4 linked regions of the Homo sapiens genome follow. The protein of the gene in region 1 interacts with the protein of each later gene in a biochemical or structural test. Each region holds a gene or a part of one and is shown in the gene's direction. Other genes may lie near its edges.

Region 1 (6,436 bases):
GACTCAGCTCTTAAGGTATTGCCATGATGCTTTGGGTGACTCTGAAGTATTTTATTGAGGAAAATGATAGAATGCCTTCCAAGCTTAAATAATTTTGGAAAAACATCTGTTCTTTTTTCACACTTACATAAAGAAAACTAGAAAAAAATTGGCTTGAGTAGTAGAAAGTGTACCTTTCTTAGGGAAAAAAGAAGTACATTGTATGCAAAATGAATAAATCTTATGTTGTTTGAATGGTTGTACAAGGTAGCTCCACAAAGAGTTAAGAAAACCTGCCAAACCAAAGAAGACTTGTTTGCCTTTCAATGTATTTCACTATGAATAATTTGATTACACGGACTTACTGGCAACAAGTGTTTGTGTCTTTGTATTTCATCTTTACTACATCTTAAATGTAGCCATCTTTCTTAAACATACATATAGATTATTGTGAGTTTCCAGTTAAAATGAAACTATCTAAATAGACACATTAATTTCCAGTTTACGTTCATGCTAGTTTTTGATTCTCTTTTTTTTAGATGTAGGTAACTGCCCCGCTAATGTTCTGTTCATTTATCTGATATATGCAAATATATCTGTTTAGTTTTTACTTACTAAGGTTGCCTTCTGAGGATTATAATTTTTTTTAGTTCTGGTTTCTTGGTAAATTTGGTCATTTAAAAATAGTATAAAATGTAAATTAACTTAATAACTTGAATCATTTTAACATTTTTGGCTTGGAATTTTTCCTTTAATGTGGGAATTGGAGGGAAGGTTCTGTCAGATTCCAGCACTGAGCCAGGACACTCCTGCTATAACTATGAGGTAGGAGGAGGGTTTTTATTGGTCTCTTTCACAATCTGTATAGATACAATACTTATGTGAAGGAAAGAACTGATGTAGCAAATTGGAATCTGTATTCCACTGCTACCAAATAACTCCTTGAGAATGTAAAACTACTAAACTATATTTGGAAATAAACTGAGCAAATAAACCCTTAAAATGAAAAACAAAACCTAAGCATTCATTATGTGAGATCAGATAGCCTGTTGATTGCCTATATAGAATAGTTCTTATGGACTTAAGTAATTTTATTTCATGAAGTTTCATTCCTGAAATTGATTCTATATCATGTTAGAACATTCAGTCTCTGAAATTTTGATCTAAACCCCTTATCTTTTGAAAATATTCCCAAATCTTTTCCATTTTCATGTCACAGGGTTTCAGTCATTTCAGTTGGATTATATAGACTTGAGTTCCTAAAAGTGGTTAGTGTCTTTGTATTTTTGTAAGCTGTTGCTTTCACTCCATGTTCTATTTTGTTTCCTTTCTTTTTCCTTTGTTGTTGTTGTTGAGACAGAGTCTCACTCTGTCACCCAGGATGGAGTGCAGTGGCACGATCTTGGCTCACTGTAACCTCCGCCTCCAGGGTTCAAGCAACTCTCCCATCGCAGCCTCCTGAGTGGCTGGGATTACAGGCACGTGCCACCAATGCCTGGCTATTTTTTTTTTTTTTTTTTTTTTTTAGTAGAGATGGGGTTTCGCCATTTTGGCCAGGCTGATCTTGAACTCCTGAACTCAGGTTATCAGCCCACCTGGGCCTCCAAAAGTGCTGAGATTACAGATGTGAGCCACCACACCTGGCCCCTGTTTCACTTTTTCATTGCGAAGTACTTTGGAGGAGTTGAGGATAAAAATATTTATTTATATTTATTTATTTATTTATTTATTTATTTATTTATTTATTTATTGAGACGGAGTCTCGCTCTATCGCCCAGGCTGGAGTGCAGTGGTGCCATCTCAGCTCACTGCAAGCTCTGCCTCCCGGGTTCACACCATTCTCTTGCCTCAGCCTCCTGAGTAGCTGGGACTACAGGCGCCAGCCACCACGCCCGGCTAATTTTTTTGTATTTTCAGTAGAGACGGGGTTTCACAGTGTTACCAGGATGGTCTTGATCTCCTGACCTCATGATCCGCCTGCCTTGGCCTCCCAAAATGCTGGGATTACAGGTGTGAGCCACCGCACCCGGCCTATTTTTATTTTTAAGGAGGCATTCATTTTAAGAGATTATTTAATCTTTTAAACTTTATACTGATATATCTCAAGAAAAACAAAATGTTCCTAAAGACTGTATATTAAATTCTGTTGGAAGTTGAGAGAATTCTAGAATTCTAGTGTAATCATAGATGGCATAATATTAAAACATAGATGGCTTGAAAGGTAGAAATTTAATTCCAAAAGTGCCCTACATCTCAGTTCAATACTTCTATGGGATTGCCTGTGACATGCAAAATATTGTAAGGCATTAGAGGTAAGAGCTACATAGGTCCTACCATCCAGGAGTGAACAAGGGGTTAACAATACTGCACAAGTAAATATTCTAGAAAGTAGATAGAGTAAGGTAAGTCACAGGGGAGATAACTAAGAGAGTTGGCAAAATATAATCAAGCCTGTTTGGTTTTATGGTGTCAGAAACTCATGTGGAAGTAGAAGGGTTTAAAGTAAGTATTTGAAGAAGGGCTATGATTTAGGTGAGTGGAAATGAGAGGAAAGAGGGAGGGATAGAGATAGGGATTGGGGAAATACATTCCAAGCCATTAGCAAAGTGACAGCACAGAAAAAGAAAGCAGGGCCCCTCTGGGAATTGGGAGCAACTAGTGGCTGTGCTAAAGTACTGTAGTGGGAACTGTGGAAAAGCAAGTTTAGGCCAGTGAGAATGAGAATCTTGGTTTCTATGATTTGATAAAGTAGGCGAGAGGGCATTCTTTTGGGTTTTAGAATAGCTAAGGCTCATTTGTGTGTGTGTGTGTGTGTGTGTGTTTTACACCAAGGACTAATAGTTACCCACTAATGCAGTTCTGAATGCCAGAATATCAGTTCAGCTTTCTTACCCCCACCATCACAGTCCTGTTAATAGTCGTAACTATATAACTAGGTAAGAGTAGTTAATTGAAGCAAACAGCAGATGATTAGAAGTCTTAAAGAAACCAAGTTCCAAGTTCCTTTTTCCACTCACTTCCAAATGTTCTCATTGAAAGTAATCTAACTTGATGCCACAGACTAGCACTGCAGATTCCTCACATACCTAGGCAAACTGAACATCAATGAGAATTGAACCTGAAGTTGTTTTTCGAAAGTCATCTTTCTTGTTTTTGTGGAGGAGTTAAATTCCAACCTAATGTTATTCTAATAGAGTTTCTAATTTAAGGTTGATTGTTAATTTGACATTACAGTTTATGCAGTAGAAATGAAGTCCCGGGAGCATTTATAAAAATGTATGAGACCAGCGTGCTAAAACCCTATTAGGGTATTTTGAAGCACAGTCAAGTTGCATGCCCCCAAAATGGGTCTTATAATGAAGATACTGGTAAGCTCTTAAATAGAATGGCTCTACTACCTGCCTGAGAATATAAATTACCAGCTTCCTTGCTCTACTGGGTCACATTTCCAAGCTCCTGCTACTTGTTATCTGGATTCCTAATGGGAAAGGGTAGAAGAACACAGATGATGTTTCTATTGTTGCTGTTTGCAGGTTATAAGGCATATGGACACATTTTTTTTTCTGTCTGCCTAGCAATGGAGGGTCTCCATGGTATCCTAGCAACCATATTCGAACACCAGGCTGCTGCTCTTTCTGCCATCTCTACCATAGGTGCTGCAGCCCATCCCAAGAAACTGGGTCTGTTGCTAGCATTCCAGATCCTCTGACTTGAACCTTTCAAGCTCAGAGAACGCAAGACAATGTGATAAATAAGCACATGCTGAAAGCAGCATTTACCAGTATGCTCAACAACTTATTATGCAATCACATCCTTGGCATTTTGTATCCTAATCTGAATTGTTGAGCTGGTACTGTTTGCCACCCCTTCCCCGACAGCCCTTGTCTGCTTCCTCACACTCAGTTCTGACACCGGTTCTGCTTCCCTCTCACCATCTTCTGTAACGACTGTGTTCCTCAGCACTTCCTTAAAATTTATTTTCTGAGAAGTTCAGTATGTGCAACCTGTTTGAACTCTCTAAGGATAATTTTGTTTGTAAGAGCAGAGGAATTTTCTCCCTCCAAAACTGTCCTGTAAATATAAACAATAGCACAAAAACTTCAGCTACACAAAACAGATGTTTAACACAATGTGGAACTAATAGTACACTCTCAAAACTGTCTTATTTCTGAATGAATTTTATAAGCATACTACTCTCCAGCTTTTTTCATTGCTTATAAAATTCATATAAGCATTCCTTCTGGAGGCTCTAGGGGAGACTCCATATCTTGTCTTTTTCAGCTTCTAGAGGCTGCCTATATTTTAAGCGTGAAATTTATAAGCAATGAAAAAAGCTGGAGAGTAGAGTGAGAAGAAGAAATGCATATCGAGGGAACAAGAAAGGGCGAAACGAGATGGGTATTGGTAAAACTATGCCATATTTGCAAGGAAGTTGGAAAATAGTGATAGGCTTTGTGTGCAAGTAAATAGGTGACAAGACTGGAAAAGAGCTTGCAAGTAAGATAGTACTTTATGGATGAAGACTGCCATAGAGAAGAGACACCCAAATTAGAGTATATCGAAGGCTTGCCTTCTTAGGGAGCTATACTGAAGATAGTTTCCCATTAGACCAGTGCTTGTTTTGAATGCATTGTATTGTCCCTTTGAAATGCTCCTTAATTTGACATCATTGAGGACTTGGTGGTGTTTGTGCAGCCAACAGTGCAGAGGACAAGAATAAGGGCAACAACTCAGTGCATCCTGCTTCTGAATGAAAGCATCAAGAATTACACTGCTCATCATCATCAGATTGGGTAACATTTATGGAGCACTAACTCTGTGCCAGGCACTGCTCCTGTGCTTTATATAGATTGTCTCTTTCATTGATTGAATGATTGATTGATTGATTGAGACAGGTTCTTTCTGTCTTATTGCCCAGGCTGGAGTGCAGTGACACAGCCATAGCTCACTGCAGCTTCAAACTCCTGGGCTCAAGTGATCCTCTTGCCTCAGCCTCCAGAGTAGCCAAGATTATAGGCACATAGCACCACACCTGGATAATTTTTAATTTTTTTCTGTAGAGACAGGGTCTCAGTTGCACAGGCTGGTCTTGAACTTCTGGCCTCAAATGATTCTCCAGCATCTGGGCCTCCAAAGAAAGTGCTGGGAATACATATGTAAGCCACCGCACCCCACCTGATCATCTTTTTTTTAGGACAAAAACAACCCTATGAGGAAGATTCTGGATTATCCCAATTTCACAGCATGAGAAAAAGAACTCTGGGGCGCAGAGAAGTGAAGCAACTTGCCCACAGTCACACTAGGTTGAGCCTGAATTTGAGCTCCAGAGCTTTTCTCCTTAGCCACTAGGCTCTCTTACTGCCCAAAGGGTCATGGGGATTAGGTAGCTGCAGGAAAACTTTATGAATAACATATAGGTCATTCTCTGGGGTGTATCTGTTCACCAATAATTAAATAGGAAGCAGAAGGACTCTGGGACTAGTGGAAGAAATAATGTAGGACGGCGGTTCCCAAACTTTCCTGCGCATTAGAATCACATGGGGAACATAAAAATCCAATTCCTAGATTGTACCACAAACCAATTAAAATCAGAATGTCCGGGTGTTGGAAGCTACATATCAGTAATTTTTGATGATTCTCCATGTAACTTTAACGTGTAGCAAAATTTGATAACCACTCTAATAGGAAGATGACAAGAGGAGTGTGTGTGTTTGTTGTGTGTGTACATTTGTGTGTGATATTAAACAAAAGACCAGGATAAAGTGTTCATCTAAAGAGTTGAATGTCTCTATTGGCTAAAACCTTTAAGCACTAGGGGCCTGCGAAAGCATAGCTGGATTTTTTTTTTTGCCAAATTGTACGTGTAGACAAATTGTACGTGTAGTTTAGTTGATGCCTTCTTGTTTATTCTCCTAAACAAGTGATCATTTCCCTACCTAGCCCATTGGTTCTCAAACATAGCTGTATGTTACAATCACCTAGGGAGCTTTAAAACATACATTTGCTGGGCACCACCTCCAGAGCCTATGATTTAATTGCTCTGGGGTAGACCTGAGGTATAGGTATATTATTTTTACTCCCAAAGTGATTATAATATTCAGCCAGGGTTGAGAAACCTCTGCTATGACCCATTCATTGTTGATTGTTACAGACTACTTGAATTCCTATTCTTTGGGGAAGCACCTTTCTTGTTTCTTTTTGAGCAACCCAAGTCCCTGGCTTGCAGTGGAGCCAGGCAGCTTCAGCTCCCCAATCTCCCTAGCATCTGAACCTATCAGCATCACTTTAATCTCTGGGGTTACCTGTTAAGGACCTGGGGCACACAAAAGTGGCAGCAGCTCTGTTCAGTGGGTAAGTTTGTTTCCCCTTTCCTGCCAGCCAGGGTTCCTGGCCACTTTCAAATGTGACACACATTAGGATCAGCTTTCATCCCAAGTTTTTTGTTTGTTTGTTTTGT
Region 2 (6,436 bases), on another chromosome or scaffold:
TCTTACAGTTCTGAACAGACTACTTCTTTCAATTATTATTTTGGCCCAAAAGGTTTTTATAGCTTTCTTTCTTAATGAGAAAGAACATTTCATATAGTCCGGTGTTTTTTTGGGTTTTTTTTAACAGACAGCTCATGGGATATTATTACCCAGTAAGGCTGATTACTATACTAGATTTCTCCCTGCATTCATTTATTTTTTACATACTTGTTAACTTACCTTGACGATTTTCTAGTATTTCTTAATGTAATTATGTGAGTTTTATATTTTGTACCTAAATTTAAAAATAGTGAGATTCACCTATATGATTGCTGAGATGATAAACTTTACTGCATAGATGATTTTTTTACCCCCGTGGGGAAACCTTTGGTCAACCAGTTGGACCAAGTAATACGTATTTCAGCCAAAGCACAAAATGCGTTTCACTACCTTTTTTTTTTCCTCTAGCTTTTCGAAACAGCATTGAGCTACAATACTTTTTTATTTATTTATTTATTTATTTATTTTTATTTATTTATTTTTTTGAGGCAAGGTTTGGCTCTATCACCCAGGCTGGAGTGCAGTGGCACACACTTGGCTCACTGCAACCTCTGTTTCCTGGCTCAAGCCATCCTCCCATTTCAGCTTCCTGAGTGAGTGGGACAACAGGCGCGCACCACCAGGCCCGGCTAATTTTTTGTAGAGACAGAGTTTCGCCATGTTGCCCAGGCTGGTCTCAAACTCATGAGCTCAAGCCATCCACCTGCCTCAGCCTCCCAAAGAGTTGGGATTACAAGCGTGAGCCACCATGCCCGAATGCTGTAGTACATTTTAAATATACATGCTGTTTGTATTTATCTTTAAAATGTACACACTATGACTTTTTTGAGTTGATTAAACTCAGAAAGTGATTAATAATATAGCAGCAAGGGCACAAATCTCTTTCCAGAAAACATCATTAAGTAAAGCTGTCATGGGCCAGTCGCGGTGGCTGACGCCTGTGTGATCCCAGCACTTTGGGAGGCTGAGGTAGGTGGATCACCTGAGGTCAGGAGTTCGAGACCAGCCTGGCCAACATGGTGAAACCCCGTCTCTACTAAAAATACAAAAATTAGCTGGGCATGGGGGCAGGCGCCTGCAATCCCAGCTACTCAGGAGGCTGAGGCAGGATAATCACTTGGACCTGGAAGGCAGAGGTTGCAGTGAGCTGAGATTGCACCATTGCACGCCAGGCTGGGCGACAAGAGCGAAACTCTGTCTTAAGAAAAAAACAAAAGCTGTCATGGTATATTTCGTTTTTTGTATTCCCAAGTTGGTGTTTATGCGTTGATCATATATACAAAGTTTTTAATGTAAGAATATTGTTTTGAGGTTTTACTAATATTTGATTTAAAATATTACTATGTGCTATTTGGCCAGGCGTGGTGGCTCACGTCTGTAATCCCGGCACTTTGGGAGGTCGAGGCGGGCGGATCACTTGAGGCCAGGAGTTTGAGACCAGCCTGGCCAAGATGGTGAAACCCCATCTCTACTAAAAATAGAAGAATTATCTGGGTATAGTTGTATACGCCTGTAGTCCCAGCTGCTTGGGAGGCTGAGGCAGGAGAATTGCTTGAGCCCTGGAAGTGGAGGTTGCAGTGAGCCAGTATCACCCCACTGAACTCCACTCTGGGTGACAGAGCAAGATGCCATCTCATAAATAAAATATTACTGTGTGCTATTTGTACCTGCTAAATGATTAAAATGTTTACAAAGTGCTTTGTTGTTGTTGTTGTTGTTGAGACGGAGTCTTTCTCTGTTGCCAGGCTGGAGTGCAGTGGTGCGATCTCAGCTCACTGCAACCTCCGCCTCCTGGGTTAAAGCGATTCCCCTGCCTCAGCCTCCCAAGTAGCTGGGATTACAGGCGCCTGCCACCATGCCCAGCTAAAGAGACAGGGTTTCACCATGTTGGCCAGGATGGTCTCGATCTCCTTGACCTCGTGATCCACCCACCTCTGCCTCCCAAAGTGGTGGGATTACAGGCGTGAGCCACTGCGCCTGGCCTACAAAGTGCTTGTCTTTACATATTTGGGGATGGGGGTGGGGTAGATCATTGAAATCTGTAAAGGCAGAACGTTTTTTATCTGGAACATATCTGTAGACTAACAGAGTTAAATGATTTCCCACAGTGTCATGGAATCATCAGTGGATTGCCTCTTGGGGTGGAGGCAAAGATCATTAAAGCAGCAAACTGATAATGTGAACGTGGTTGTTTTTTCTCTGCCAATTAAATATATGCTAGTTTAGTCATTATAGAAGAGCCAGATGCTGGTCAGCTTGTTGAAGTTGTAAGTAGAAGGTGTGGTTTTATCACATCTGTAAATGTAGGTTTTTGAGACAAAACTTAAATAAGAATAGACGTTAGTTTTTATTCACATTCAGAATGTCTGACTCCCCTTAATATATACACACTCTTGTCTTATCTACTGGGTTTTTTTGTTGTTGTTTTTTGTTTTGCCTTTTCTCTCTCTCTTTTTAAGCTCTGCCAGACAAGGCCCTATGAAGATAGGTTTTACAGGTTGAGAATCTTTTATCTGAAATTCTTGGGACCAGAAGTATTTCCAGTTTTGGGTTTTTTCAGATTTTAGAATATTTGCATATACATACATAATGAGCTATCTTGGGGATGGGACCCAAGTCTAAACATGAAATTTGTTTCATATACACATTATACACATAGCCTGAAGGTAATTTTATACAAAATTTTTAATAATTTTGTGCATGAAACAGTTTTGACTGTGAACTGTTACATGAGGTCAGGTGTGGGAATTTTTCATGGCATCATGTCAGTGCTCAAAAAGTTTGAGATTTTGGATGTTTTATTAGGGATGCTTACCCTGTATTATATTTTGCCCAGATGTTTCCTCATTTGTCTTCTAGGCTACCAGAAAGATGTTAGCTTAGAAAAACGTATTCTGGCGTTTATTCCAACAGATGAGAAGGCAGTTTCTCCAGTGATGAATAATTACCTATAATTTAATACGTGCATTATACATCTCCAGTGATGAAAAATCACTGTGTATTAAAAAATTCTTGAAGCTAGGTACATAATCTCAACTCCTAAAAAAGAAAATAAACAGTAGTACTCCTTGATGAACTTACAGATGCTAAGTTGCCTTTTCTTAGAGTTGAAATAAGGTGATAAAGGAGTTTACCGTGAGACTAGCTGTGTGAACAAAGATGAAAAACACCCTTTCAGTTTTCTTCCTCTTGGATGATTCTAGGATCTCTAAAAAATAATCTTAAAAGGGGCGAGGTTTTGAGAGGATGAGGTCTAAGGAATTGATGGTGAGTTTTTTCTGAAAGAAGAGAAGTGACATTTGATTAGATAAGAAAGGGTTAAAAGGGAAGTTATTAATAAAATAGTTTAGGAGTAGAGTGGATCTGAAAGTTGACTTATACCAATGATGATAGAATGTGTCTTTTCCCAAAGGTTAGTGCATCTTCTCTGAAATGAAGACGTTTCTTTCATCAATTTTAAGTGAATTTCTAAGGATCTGGTTATCTACTTGTGAGTTTTTGGTTGTAACTGTATGACAGTACAGATGTAACTAAAAATGTTTGTAATTTACCCAAGGTTAAATAACCATTATTTTTGAGGGCTGTTATCCCTGTTGGTATAAGTAAGTAGTTGGCAGTAGGGGACACAGAAATACCTTGTTTTTCACCACTGAAGTGAAAATTACAGATTATTCTGAATTATTTGTACTCTTTTTTTTTTTTTTTGAGAGGAATCTCGCTCTGTCTCCCAGCCTGGAATGCAGTGGTGTGATCTCGGCTCACTGCAACCTCCGCCTCCTGGGTTCCAGCGATTCTGCTGCCCCAGCCTCCCAAGTAGCTGGGATTACAAGCATGTGCCACCATACCTGGCTAATTTTTTTTTTTTTTTTTTGTATTTTTAGTAGAGACAGGATTTCACCATGTTGGCCAAGCTGGTCTCGAACTCCTGACCTTATGTGATCTGCCTGCCTCAGCCTCCGATTACAGGCATGAACCACCGCCCCCAGCCCTATTTGTACTCTTAAAGGGGAGTCATTTTCTTATAATAAGTATCAGTAGTAGCTCTATTGTTTGCTGTGATCAATGGTGACACCTTGACTTTATGTATTGCCATTTATCAATCATTTATTCAGTGAAGATTTATTGACCATTGACTTTATTATGGTTGGTGAAATAATCGCAAGAAAATTTATTCAGTTAGGTATTTATAAAAATACCTAGGTATTAAATGAAGATTGTTCTAGTTGATATAAGCAATAAAGCCTGACTATATGGCTCCTACCCTCAAGAATCTTACGGTATAGTAGGGATGATGAAATAGTGTAAGAATGATTTATATGTGCCAGAGTACATGACAGAGTTTTTACTGTCTTGAAGAGCTACAGAGTTCAGAAGAGAAGGGGCTTAGTGAGGAAAAGTTTTGTGGGAGAAGTAGAATTCAAGTTGAATACTAAAGAACTTCAGTAAGTACAGATAAAATGGAGTGTATTCTAGGCAGTGGAATGGACAAAAAAATGAAAACATGGACATATAATGAACTTGACATACTCATAAATTGGTGAAGAAAGTATTAGATTATAGATCTACATTTTGAGGAATGCTGAGTATGAGGCAGGGAGCTTTGAGTTTCATGTAAGAGAAGGTAAGATATAAACAGGAATACAATGATAAATTGGGCTGAAATGTAGATTTCCTGACTCCCAATTCTTCTCCTTAGTGTAGACAGAGATATACAGTCATGCACTGTATAAGAACGTTTTGGTGAATGACAGATTGCATATACAACAGTGGTCCTGTGCTAGTGTAAGCAAACCTATTAAGAACTTCAGATAGGTCCTTCAGGAGGTATTCCAGAAGAAGGCATTGTTACCATAGGAGATGACAGCTCCATGCATGTGATTGCCCCTTGAAGACATTCCAGTGGGACACGTTGTGGAGGTGGAAGGCTGTGATGTTGACAATCTTGACCCTGTGTAGGCCTAGGCTAACGTGTGAATGTCTTTTTAACAAAAAATTTTAAAAAGTGGCCGGGAATGGTGGCTCACGCCTGTAATCCTAGCACTTGGGGAGGCTGAGTCAGGCGGGTTGCTTGAGCCCAGGAGTTTCAAGCAGCCTGGGCAAAATGGCGAAATCCTGTCTCTACAGAGAATACAAAAATTAATTAACTGGGCTTGGTGGTGCATGCCTGTAATCCCTGCTACTCACGAGGCCAAGGCAGGAGAACCCAAGAGGCAGAGATTGCAGTGAGCTGATACTGTGCCACTGCACTCCAGCCTGGGTGACATAGTGAGACCCTGTGTCAAAAAAATAAAGTTTAACAAAAAAGTTTAAAAAGTAAAAAAAAAAAAAAAAAAAAAAAAAAAAGGAAAAAACCTTAGATTCTTTTATTGCTTTACTTTATTACTAAATTTGCTTTCACTTAAAAACCCTTTAGAGAAAAAATATTTTTATACAGCTGTACAATTTATTTGTGTTTTAAGCTATGTGTTATTACAAAAGAGTTGACAAGTTAAAAAAACTAAAAAGCATATGAAGTTACAGTAAGCTACGGTTAATGTATTACTGATGAAAGAAAATTTTGTTTATATAAATTTAGTGTAGCCTGGATGGGCACAGTGGCTCACACCTGTAATCCCAGCACTTTGGGAGGCCAAGGCAGGTGGATTACCTGAGGTTAGAAGTTCGAGACCAGCCTGGCCAACATGGTGAAACCCTGTTCCTACTAAAAGTGCAAAAATTAGCCAGGTGTGGTGGCAGGCGCCCGTAATCCCAGCTACTCAGGAGGCTGAGGCAGGAGAATAGCTTGAACCCACAGGTGGAGCATGCAGTGAGCCGAGATCGTGCCACTGCACTCCAGCCTGGGTGACAAGAGCAAGACTCCATCTCAAAAAAAAAAAAATTAGCCTAAGTATACAGTGCCTTTGAAGTCTACAATAGTGTACAGTAATGTTGTAGGCCTTCACATTTCTCACACTGATTCACCCAGACCAACTTCTAGTCCTGCAAGCTCCGTTTGTGATAAGCACCCTGTACAGATGTACCATTTTTTATCTTTTATATTTTATATCTTTTATTTTTACTGTACCTTTTCTATGTTTGGATATGTTTCGATAACAAATACTTACCGTTGTGTTACATTTCCCCACAGTGTTCAGTACAATACCATGCTGTATGGGTTTGTAGCCTATACTATGTAGCCTTGGTACATAGTAGGCTATACCATCTAGGTTTTGTTTTCTAACCTAATTAACTAATGATGCATTTCTCAGAACATATTACCATCAAGTGACACATGACTGTATATGTATTACAGTTAAAAATTGGACATCATAGATTCTTTTTTAAACAGCTTTATTGAAATATAATTCACATACTCTACAATACACCCATTTGGTGTGTACAGTTCAGTGGTTTTCAG
Region 3 (3,433 bases), on another chromosome or scaffold:
CAAGGTTTAGATGCTGGGGGATCACTGTGGTTCTCTCAATGGCTAAGTGCCTTTCCCTGCCATTTCTAACTTCAAAGTACATGACTAAGTTATAGGCCAGAGAAATCACTGACTCATATCCAAGGTCCAGTATCCTGGACCCTCAGGGTCACTTGGAAATAGTTTTACAATAATGTTGAATGCCCAGCTGTGCGCAGTGGCTTAACGCCTGTAATCCCAGCACTTTGGGAGGCTGAGGCGGGTGGATCATATGAAGTCTAGGAGTCAGAGACTAGTCTGGCCAACATGCCGAAACCTTGACTCTACCAAAAAGTACAAAAATTAGCCAGGCGTAGTGGTGCACATCTGTAATCCCAGCTACTTGGGAGGCTGAGGCCCGAGAAGTGCTTGAACCCTGGAGGCGGAGGTTGCAGTGAGTCGAGATCACGCCACTGCACTCCAGCCTGGGCAACAGAGTGAAACTGTCTCAGGGAAAAAAAAAAAGTCAATGTTCTATGTCTATTATATTTGCTTTTTATTTCTTAGACATATGATGTGCTTTCCTGGTTAATGCTAACTCTTTTTCAGCATTTCTGCCATGCAGCCTTTTTGTTAGTTCTTTGTGTTTGTGTCTTATTCCCCCTGCTGAATTCCAAATCCTTTATTATTTTTCTATTTTTTGTAGAGACAGAGTCTTGCTATGTTGCCCAGGCTGGTCTCAAATTCCTGGGCTCAAGTGGTCTCCTGCCTTGGCCTCCCAAAGTGCTGAGAGATACAGGCATGAGCCACTGCACCCTGCCCCAAAACCTTTGAGGGTAGAGGAACCATGTATTCATCTTTTGTACACCACCATGGTGCTTGTCCCAGAGCTTTGCTTTTTTCAAGTGAGCAATAAATTCCTTTTCTTACTTCTTATCCTGTTGGCTTTCTATGAATTCTAGGGCTAGGAAAGAACTATGGAAACTGGTTTAATTCCATCCTTCTGCCTCAGGGAAGGGCCACATTCAGACTACCTGGGAAAGTCTGGTAAAATGACTGTAGAAAAGGTTTCCACAGCTTCTAATTAACATGTAGCAGTGACTTTAAAGTTTTTTACATGTAGACCTCCTAAAACAGTTTTGAAAATCTGTGCCCCCTCATACATTTTTAAACTGATACCTAAAAATGCTTATTTAAGTAGTTGCAGAGAAGGTAATTTCTGGCATATAATTTATTGTGTGCTTATTTCAAGCATATATTTGTCAAAATTTTAGATTCGCAGGTTAACGCTACTTAGTTTGCATGAATGTCTACCAAACAGCCTAACTGGCAAAAGCCAGTCTGCATTGTAAAGCCAGTGGACCAAGATAGACTAAATTTTCTGTCAGAAAAAGTCTGACTTTGTTTTTAAATTCAGATAAAGTTGTTGAATATGTCCTTATCACAATGATCTATCATATTTTTTAGTTCTCATTATTAGACAGAAACAGAGTTAAGTCACAGAGCCATACTTGTGTTTGTGGTGTGACTGAAACAAGATCAGCCCCCTTCATTGAATTTTACCTAGATGCTCTTTCTTTTTGCTCTTTGGTTCTTATGGAAAAGCCCCTTTTGTCCCTTAGTTTAGAACCCTTATATTTTTATACCCCTGAGCATTGTAGCGTGGAAAGATCTGGGATGAATGACAGGTATGTGTTCTTTCTATGAAGTGGGAGAAGAGTGATTGAAAACAGAGGCAGTTCAATTTTAAGAAAGAGAACATTAGAGAAATTGGCTCTCTTAATACTATTAGCGCCCAGAACTCCCTCAAAAGTTTTTGTATACTACTTGGAGGTGTGTGTACTCCAGTATGAAGACTGCTATTCTAGAATTATTTAGCCCTCACGTCTAGGATGCCTAAACTGGAAATTCCTTTGTTATTCTTACTAAGCCCCTAATTTCTCATTCATTATCTTCACTAATACGTTTTTTTTTTACAAGGCTTTTTAGGTTTTATAAGTCTATAAACTTCTCCTCTTAGCTTTTGTCTAATCCATAATCTCCCACAAAATTTGTTAAATTGCATCATGAGACCAGCCCTCCCTCCCTCCTGCCCCTTGATTATTCCTGGGCTGGCCCTCTAGTAATGCTTCAGCTTGTTTTCTATCATATTTCTCTTTCTCTCTCCTTTATAGCTCATGCTGCTCAGGTCACTTGTGTTGCTGCCTCTCCTCACAAGGACTCTGTGTTTCTTTCATGCAGCGAGGTAAGAGATAGCTCCTTCTTCCCTAAACACACTCCAGCCATCCATAGGCCAAAGTCTCTAGTGGGGAGACTTTCTGGCCTGCAACTGCTCCTTTGGATTATGAAATCCTTTTTCTGTTCCACCTTCCTCTAGGACAATAGAATTTTACTCTGGGATACCCGCTGTCCCAAGCCAGCATCACAGATTGGTGAGTCTGAGATTCATTGGTGGGAGAATAGTACTTGGAACCCTGATAGAAGAGACTGTCTTTGGCCAGTGTCAAAGCATAGTTGCTAGATGCCCAGTGTAGTTACTGTGACATGAGTGACATAATCTCCTTCTTTTCCAGTGAGGCTCTGCTAACCCCATTCTGTGCAATGAATACCAAGAGGAAGGGCCAGTTCCTGGGTGGGTGATTTACTTTATTAGATGGTAGGACAAAGGGGCCAGAATTGTTATCGTCATGATTCGTGCCTGAAACTTGCCTGTGACTCGTGTCCAGAAAGGGCAGGAGGCTGCTGGGATAAATGGTTATGAGGCTCAAGGATGAGGACACTGCTGCCTTAGCAGGGTTTGGGAAATCAAATAAAGGTGCTCCCAGGATTTAGAGTGATATCATTTGAGAAACTGCTTCTTCTGTACTCTGAGTTTTGGTCCAGACCCTCGTCTCTCCTTTGCAGGCTGCAGTGCGCCTGGCTACCTTCCTACCTCGCTGGCTTGGCATCCTCAGCAAAGTGAAGTCTTTGTCTTTGGTAAGGCAGCGTGTCAGACTTCATATTGACTCTGGGAAAGGGGAGGAGGAAAAAGAAAGAGCTGACTCCACAACACACAAGGCCCTTGTTGCTCAGTCTTAGCCCTCATGGACACTAGATGAATTATGAATTGAGGGTGGGGAGGTGGGGTGATGCCAACGTAGTTTTAGTGTAGTTTTGGAGAACATGATTATTTTCCCAGTGGATTTGATTTTTGATTGATTGATCCAGCTTCTGTATTCTGGGCATGGCTATAAGTCAGTGATCCACAAAGCAAGTGGATTGCTATATAGCGAATTCTGTCCTACTGTGGGTAGGTGTAGCGCTATCGTGGTCATGAGGCTGTGTATATGGTGACATAGTTTGTGGTTAAAATAATAACTGCTTCGTTCATTAACTTAATTTTCACAATGATCCAGTGACTTATTATTCCTACTTTGCAAAAGAGAAAACTGATGCTCAGAATGGTTAACTTTTACAAGCTCGAGGAACTAGGATT
Region 4 (6,436 bases), on another chromosome or scaffold:
AGCCGGGTGCAGTGGCTCACGCCTGTAATCGCAGCACTTTGGGAGGCCAAGGCGGGCGGATCAGGAGGTCAGGAGATCGAGACCATCCTGGCGAACACGATGAAACCCCGTCTCTACTAAAAATACAGGAAAATTAGCCGGGCGTGGTGGCGGGCGCCTGTAGTCCCAGCTACTCGGGAGGCTGAGGCAGGGGAATGGCTTGAACCCCAGAGGCGGAGCTTGCAGTGAGCCAAAATCGCACCACTGCACTCCAGCCTGGGCGACAGAGTGAGACTCTGTCTCAAAAAAAAAAAAAAAAGAAGGAAAAAAAGTTCAGGACCTAAAGAAGGAAGGTCCCAGAAACTGGGTTTCTGTTTCTTTCTACCACTACACTTGCTACTGAAACCAAGCAGATGACTTCATTTCTCTTGGATTCCACTTTCTCACGTGTCAGAATGGGAGAGGAAGGGAGGTGTTGGGATAAGTTTCAGTTCCACTGTTTGTACTTCTCGTCTGGCTAACACCCATGTGGCAAATAGGTTTCATCATTTGTTTCAGCTTAGATTTGTTGACAGCGGTTTCCTGGAGTGCTGTCTTGAGAACGATTCTGAGGAGGCTCAGCAAGAAAGAGTGTTTCAGTTGATTGGGTGTGTCTGTCATGGAGAAGGAAGTAAGGAGTGGGCAGTGCTAGCAAAATTCCCGGGGCACTTCTGTCCATTATCTCAATACCTGGGGTTGACATTTCCTGTCTCAGATCAGGAGTCCTGACTACCCTGCCTCTGACCACTCGAACTGAGTGCTGCTTAGCTGTATCGTAGACACCGCCTGTTTGTGAACAGACACCCTGCTTCTTGATGATAACACAAAGGCCAGCAGGGTCCACTGCTGTGTGGAATGGCCTTCGGTCATTTCTGCCCAGAGCATAGAGGTCATTTTCACTAATAACATAACTCTCCTTTTGATTGAAAGTGTTAAAATGTTCCTCCTAAAAGCACTTATTTTTTAGGCTCGTTCTTCAGATTTGCCCCATATCCTAAGCAAAATGCCTTCAATATGAAGTGGATATTGCTTGACCGTAGGGAGCTTGTCCATACTGTACTCGAGAATGTAGACACAAAGAAAGAATGTCTGTGTCAAATGTTATCCTCCGCAACTTAACGTTCTCTTGCACTTTCAGCTCAAGCTCTTGGACTCACCGAGGCAGTAAAAGTACCATATCCTGTGTTTGAATCAAACCCGGAGTTCTTGTATGTGGAAGGCTTGCCAGAGGGGATTCCCTTCCGAAGCCCTACCTGGTTTGGAATTCCACGACTTGAAAGGATCGTCCGCGGGAGTAATAAAATCAAGTTCGTTGTTAAAAAGTAAGTTCTTTTTGCCACTGTAGTCGTTTCTGGAATCAAAACAATAAAATGACATTTCTGTTAAGATGTTTTTCAAGCTAGAGGTGACAGGCGTGGCTGTAAGTCCTTGATGGCAAAGCCTGGCTGTGAGCTGCAGTCCGGGTACTGTCCATTGCCCCTGCCCATACTCAATCATCTTCATCCGTGCAAGGAAAATAGTGACAATCGCCTCCGCGGAGTCACCGTGAGGCCCCGTGGTGACTCGCAGTATGCCTGAGTACTTGAATGGAAGTTTAATTTGCTGGTTTTTATCTGCTCTGTTATTCCTGGTCAATCTTGAGAGCGACTAAATATTGATGATTGAGTTTCTTTCTTTTTTTTGAGACGGACTCTTGCTCTGTCGCCCAGGCTTGAGTGCGGTGGCGCAATCTCAGCTCACTGCAACCTCCGCCTCCTGGGTTCGAGCAATTCTCGTGCCTCAGCCTCCCGAGTAGCTGGGATTACAGACTTGCACCGCCACGCCTGGCTAATTTTTGTATTTTTAGAATAGATGGAGCTTCACCGTGTTGGCTAGGCTGGTCTGGAATTCCTGACCTCAGGTGATCCACCCGCCTCAGCCTCCCAGAATGCTGGGATTACAGGCATGAGCCACCGTGCACGGCCTAATGATTGATTTTCTTATCTACATTTCTGCAGAATTTTAGTGGCTAAAGAAAGTACACTAGTGTTTTTTTTTTCTTTTTTAATGAAAATAGTCACTTATTTACTCTTCATAAAATGGCTTACCAGTCATGGGAAGGAAAAGTCAGGGTCTTTTGTCCACAACACTAGGAATTATTGTGTTACAGGATGATTCTGTGAATGCCTTTAGAAAAAAAACCCTGATCACATCACGACCGTTTTACTAGCTGTGAGGCCACCACTGTGCTGGCTACTGTAACACTTCTTGGTTTTCTTTCTAGACCTGAACTAGTTATTTCCTACTTGCCTCCTGGGATGGCTAGTAAAATAAACACTAAAGGTAAGAGACGACGTGTACTCCGTATCCTATTTGAGCGCATTAAGACACTCTTTATCCGCATTCCTTAAATCATACGGAATCGGCCAATATCTCTGTGGGGCTTGGAGTTGTTTACTTTGCTTTCTAAGGTATTTTATTTAATGGAACTATTTTTCTTTTTTTTTTTTAAAAAAACAAAACATTTCATTGGAAATGTCACATTTGCAATCCCAGTTCATTCATGTTTTCACAGCTTTGTTGAGCCCCTGTGGAGGATTACACTACAAGTTTAATTCTGCAGGTTTCTTTGAAAAGAACCAAACTGTATGAATTTTAATACTCTGCTCTTATAAAGCATCTCCTTCTGTATTTTTTTTTCCCTACAATATACAAAAGGAACTCTGCTTATTTTACAGCTTTGCAGTCCCCCAAAAGACCACGAAGTCCTGGGAGTAATTCAAAGGTTCCTGAAATTGAGGTCACCGTGGAAGGTAAGGGCCAGTCCTCGGTATGTTTCTGTTCATTCTCTAGTTTACTAATTATGTCAGTTCACTAGCTATGTGTTTATACAGGTTTATACAGATGACGTTAACCAAACTAGCTTTTAACTGTGAACAGCTGCCTGTGATAAAGCTAAATTTCTGAATGCTTCTAATTGAAAATTTTTAAATCCTTAATAGAAAACAGATAACATGGATCACATCATAAACTTCCCCCAAGAAAAGTCCTAAAATGCTTTTCCTTTATCATAACAAATAAGGGTGCAGAGTCATGTGGAATGTTTTATCTTTTTTTTCCTCTTCATTTTTTTCTATTGTTTTAAGGAAAGAAAGTTTAGGGTGGTTTAAACAGCAGTGCCTTGAATAAAAGTATTTTCTTTTTCTTTTTTGAGACAGAGTCTGGCTCTCTTGCCCAGGGTGGAGTGCAGTGGCACAATCTCGGCTCACTGCAGCCTCCGCCTCCCGGGTTCAAGTGATTCTCCTGCCTCAGCCTCCCAGGTAGCTGGGATTACAGGCGTCCACCACCAACTCCAGCTAATTTTTATATCTTTAGTAGAGACGGGGTTTTACCACGTTGGCCAGGCTGGTCTCGAACCCCTGACCTCAAGTGAGCCACCACGCCCAGCTGGTTCTTGTCTTTTCAGGCTCACAGTGTTAAAATACTGCATACAATACTAAAGACAATCTCCAACCAACTGTCAAGTATGGATATTTCTTCCATCTCTTCATAAATGCAGAAGGAAATCACTGCATTAGGATCATTCTCTACATCCCAGGTGTCAAGTTTTTAAATAAGAGTTTGCCGTACTGGTGTTGAGTGGCGCAGAAGTCCCTATTTAGTCATGTGGCACACTTTCAGAGAGCCTGCTTTCTCATAAGATAGCCAACAAGCATCCATGGACAACTTACACCTGATTAATTATTTCTGTTCAAAAATGCCAAGAATTAAAAATATATTGAACCCTTGACTTTCCTCCTTCCGGAAGAGATCAGAGGAAGATCTCTCTTATATACAAGATGCCAGCCTTTCCTAAAGGGCAGAGCCAAGTTCACGGGGCCTGGGAGGCCTGCTTTAAGAATACAAAATTAGGGCCAGGCGTGGAGGCTCACGCCTGTAATCCCAGCACTTTGGGAGGCCGAGGCAGGCGGATCACCTGAGGTTGGGAGATCGAGACCAGCCTGACCAACATGGAGAAACCCCATCTCTACTGAAAATACAAAATTATCTGGGCCTGGTGGCGCATGCCTGTAATCCCAGCTACTCAGGAGGCTGAGGCAAGACAATCGCTTGAAACCAGGAGGCAGAGGTTGTGGTGAGCCGAGATTGCGCCATTGCACTCCAGCCTGGGCAACAAGAGCGAAACTTTGTCTCAAAAAAAAAAAAAAAAAAGAAGAAGAAGAAGAAGAGAAGAAAAATGGGTTTCTGTAGAAATAGAAAAATGGTTTCTGTGGAACTCGCCGGAATGACAAGAATACCCATTTCAATTTGAACCTAGCTTTGTTTTCTGGCACAGGCTGGACTTGAAGATTGTAACCTAGAGACACTTACGTCATTAAATGTGTGTTGATTATCATTATTTTTTCTGTCTTTTAGGCCCTAATAACAACAATCCTCAAACCTCAGCTGTTCGAACCCCGACCCAGACTAACGGTTCTAACGTTCCCTTCAAGCCACGAGGGAGAGAGTTTTCCTTTGGTAAGTAAGCGTTTTATTTTTCTTTCTTTCATAGTTTTAAATAGAATACGTTCATTATGTTTCATTTTACCAGGTGAATTGTTCCTATTGGTGAGTCAGTATATATCAAAGGTTAAAGGAATAGCCCGTAGAGCCAGGCTGCCTGAGTTCAGATCTGAGTTCAAATCCGATGCCACTTGGGCAGGCGAATACACCCTGCCTCAGTTTCCCTTTGTGCAAAATGGTAATAACATTACTTTCTTTCTCATGAGGTTATGGTGAGGATTATAAATACTGTCATTTAAAGTACTTAGAACCATACCTCGCATGTAGTAGAGACTATAATTTGTGGGGGCATTTTGGGGGTTTTCATTTGTTTTTTCTTTATTTTAGCATTTGTTCACTTATTTGTAGTCAACATAAAAGCAATGTACTAAAACAGTTTGCTTATGTATCAGGATGGGAGTAGTTGTCAAGTCATATCATGGTAAAAGATTATGCATTTTTTATTTCTTCTTAAAGATGCACAAATAAGGCCAGGCGCAGTGGCTCACGCCTGTAATCCCAACACTTTGGGAGGCCGAGGTGGGCGGATCACCTGAGGTTGGGAGTTCGAGACCAGCCTGACCAACATGGAGAAACCCCGTGTCTACCAAAAATACAAAATTAGCCAGGCATGGTGGCGCATGCCTGTAATCCCAGCTACTCAGGAGGCTGAGGCAGGAGAACTGCTTGAACTCAGGAGGTGGAGGTTGCAGTGAGCAGAGATCGCACCATTGCCCTCCAGCCTGGGTAACAAGAGCGAAACTCTGTCTCAACAAAAAAAAAATAAGATGCACAAATAAGATGAAACACTCCTGCCTGTGAATGTGTATTGATAAGTACTGTGATAAGTATTGCAATTTAACTCTCTTATGTTTTATATGCAGAGGCCTGGAATGCCAAAATCACGGACCTAAAACAGAAAGTTGAAAATCTCTTCAATGAGAAATGTGGTAAGTCTATTTTGAAACCTTCTTACTGCCACGCAGGGTGCCTTCATGGGAGTAGGAGGGAGCAGAGTGGGATACTGAGCGTTGGAGTATCCCTGTCATTGGCAACGTGTGGGTTTTTCGGGATTGAATGGCGTCATTTCGCCCATGTTCTGTTTCGTGTACGCGGCTGTTTTGCAGGGGAAGCTCTTGGCCTTAAACAAGCTGTGAAGGTGCCGTTCGCGTTATTTGAGTCTTTCCCGGAAGACTTTTATGTGGAAGGCTTACCTGAGGGTGTGCCATTCCGAAGACCATCGACTTTTGGCATTCCGAGGCTGGAGAAGATACTCAGAAACAAAGCCAAAATTAAGTTCATCATTAAAAAGTAAGGAAACTGGATGAAGTGGGATTAGCATGAGTTGATTGTGTTTGACACTGGGAGATGGGTATGTGGGTTTGTGTTTGTGGCAGGGCTGAATTAGCTCTGGAGTCAGAAAAACTGCTTTTTAAGCTGCACTCTTGTATATGTTTAAAACTTCTGGCCAGGTGCGATGGCTCACACCTGTAATCCCAGCACTTTGGGAGGCCAAAGCAGGTGGATTACCTGAGGTCAGAAGTTCAAGACCAACCTGGCCAACATGATGAAACCCATCTCTACTAAAAGTACAAAAATTAGCTGGGCGTGGTGGCACGTGCCTGTAATCCCAGCTACTTGGGAGACTGAGGCAGGAGAATCACTTGAACCCAGCAGGCAGAGGTTGCAATGAGCCAAGATCGTGCCACTGCACTCCAGCCTGGGCAGCAAGAGCAAAACTCCATCTCAAAAACAAAAAAAAAAAAAAAAAAGAAGAAGAAATTTTCCTTATGCTGCTGGTAGAAGGGAAGGAGGACTCCACCATACTAGAGAGATAACGACTTTTGGTTGCTAAATCTACACAGCTATGTTGTTACTATTTGATGCTGCTGGAATC

What was found.
Region 2: of the proteins of PRKG1 (region 1) and CREB1, one has a biochemical effect on the other in vitro, tested with the Homo sapiens proteins (one study listed by BioGRID).
Region 3: the proteins of PRKG1 (region 1) and WDR77 form a complex in vitro, tested with the Homo sapiens proteins (one study listed by BioGRID).
Region 4: the proteins of PRKG1 (region 1) and GTF2I form a complex in vitro, tested with the Homo sapiens proteins (one study listed by BioGRID).

The regions. Positions count from the first base shown.
Region 1 is NC_000010.11:51,076,905-51,083,340, forward strand, and holds part of PRKG1 (cGMP-dependent protein kinase 1), read left to right. Parts: intron 1-6,436. UniProt on the Homo sapiens protein: Serine/threonine protein kinase that acts as a key mediator of the nitric oxide (NO)/cGMP signaling pathway. GMP binding activates PRKG1, which phosphorylates serines and threonines on many cellular proteins.
Region 2 is NC_000002.12:207,535,316-207,541,751, forward strand, and holds part of CREB1 (cyclic AMP-responsive element-binding protein 1), read left to right. Parts: intron 1-6,436.
Region 3 is NC_000001.11:111,442,824-111,446,256, reverse strand, and holds part of WDR77 (methylosome protein WDR77), read left to right. Parts: intron 1-2,132; coding exon 2,133-2,203; intron 2,204-2,335; coding exon 2,336-2,390; intron 2,391-2,862; coding exon 2,863-2,934; intron 2,935-3,433. UniProt on the Homo sapiens protein: Non-catalytic component of the methylosome complex, composed of PRMT5, WDR77 and CLNS1A, which modifies specific arginines to dimethylarginines in several spliceosomal Sm proteins and histones.
Region 4 is NC_000007.14:74,743,602-74,750,037, forward strand, and holds part of GTF2I (general transcription factor II-I), read left to right. Parts: intron 1-1,156; coding exon 1,157-1,340; intron 1,341-2,281; coding exon 2,282-2,340; intron 2,341-2,735; coding exon 2,736-2,810; intron 2,811-4,413; coding exon 4,414-4,515; intron 4,516-5,423; coding exon 5,424-5,489; intron 5,490-5,666; coding exon 5,667-5,850; intron 5,851-6,436. UniProt on the Homo sapiens protein: Interacts with the basal transcription machinery by coordinating the formation of a multiprotein complex at the C-FOS promoter, and linking specific signal responsive activator complexes.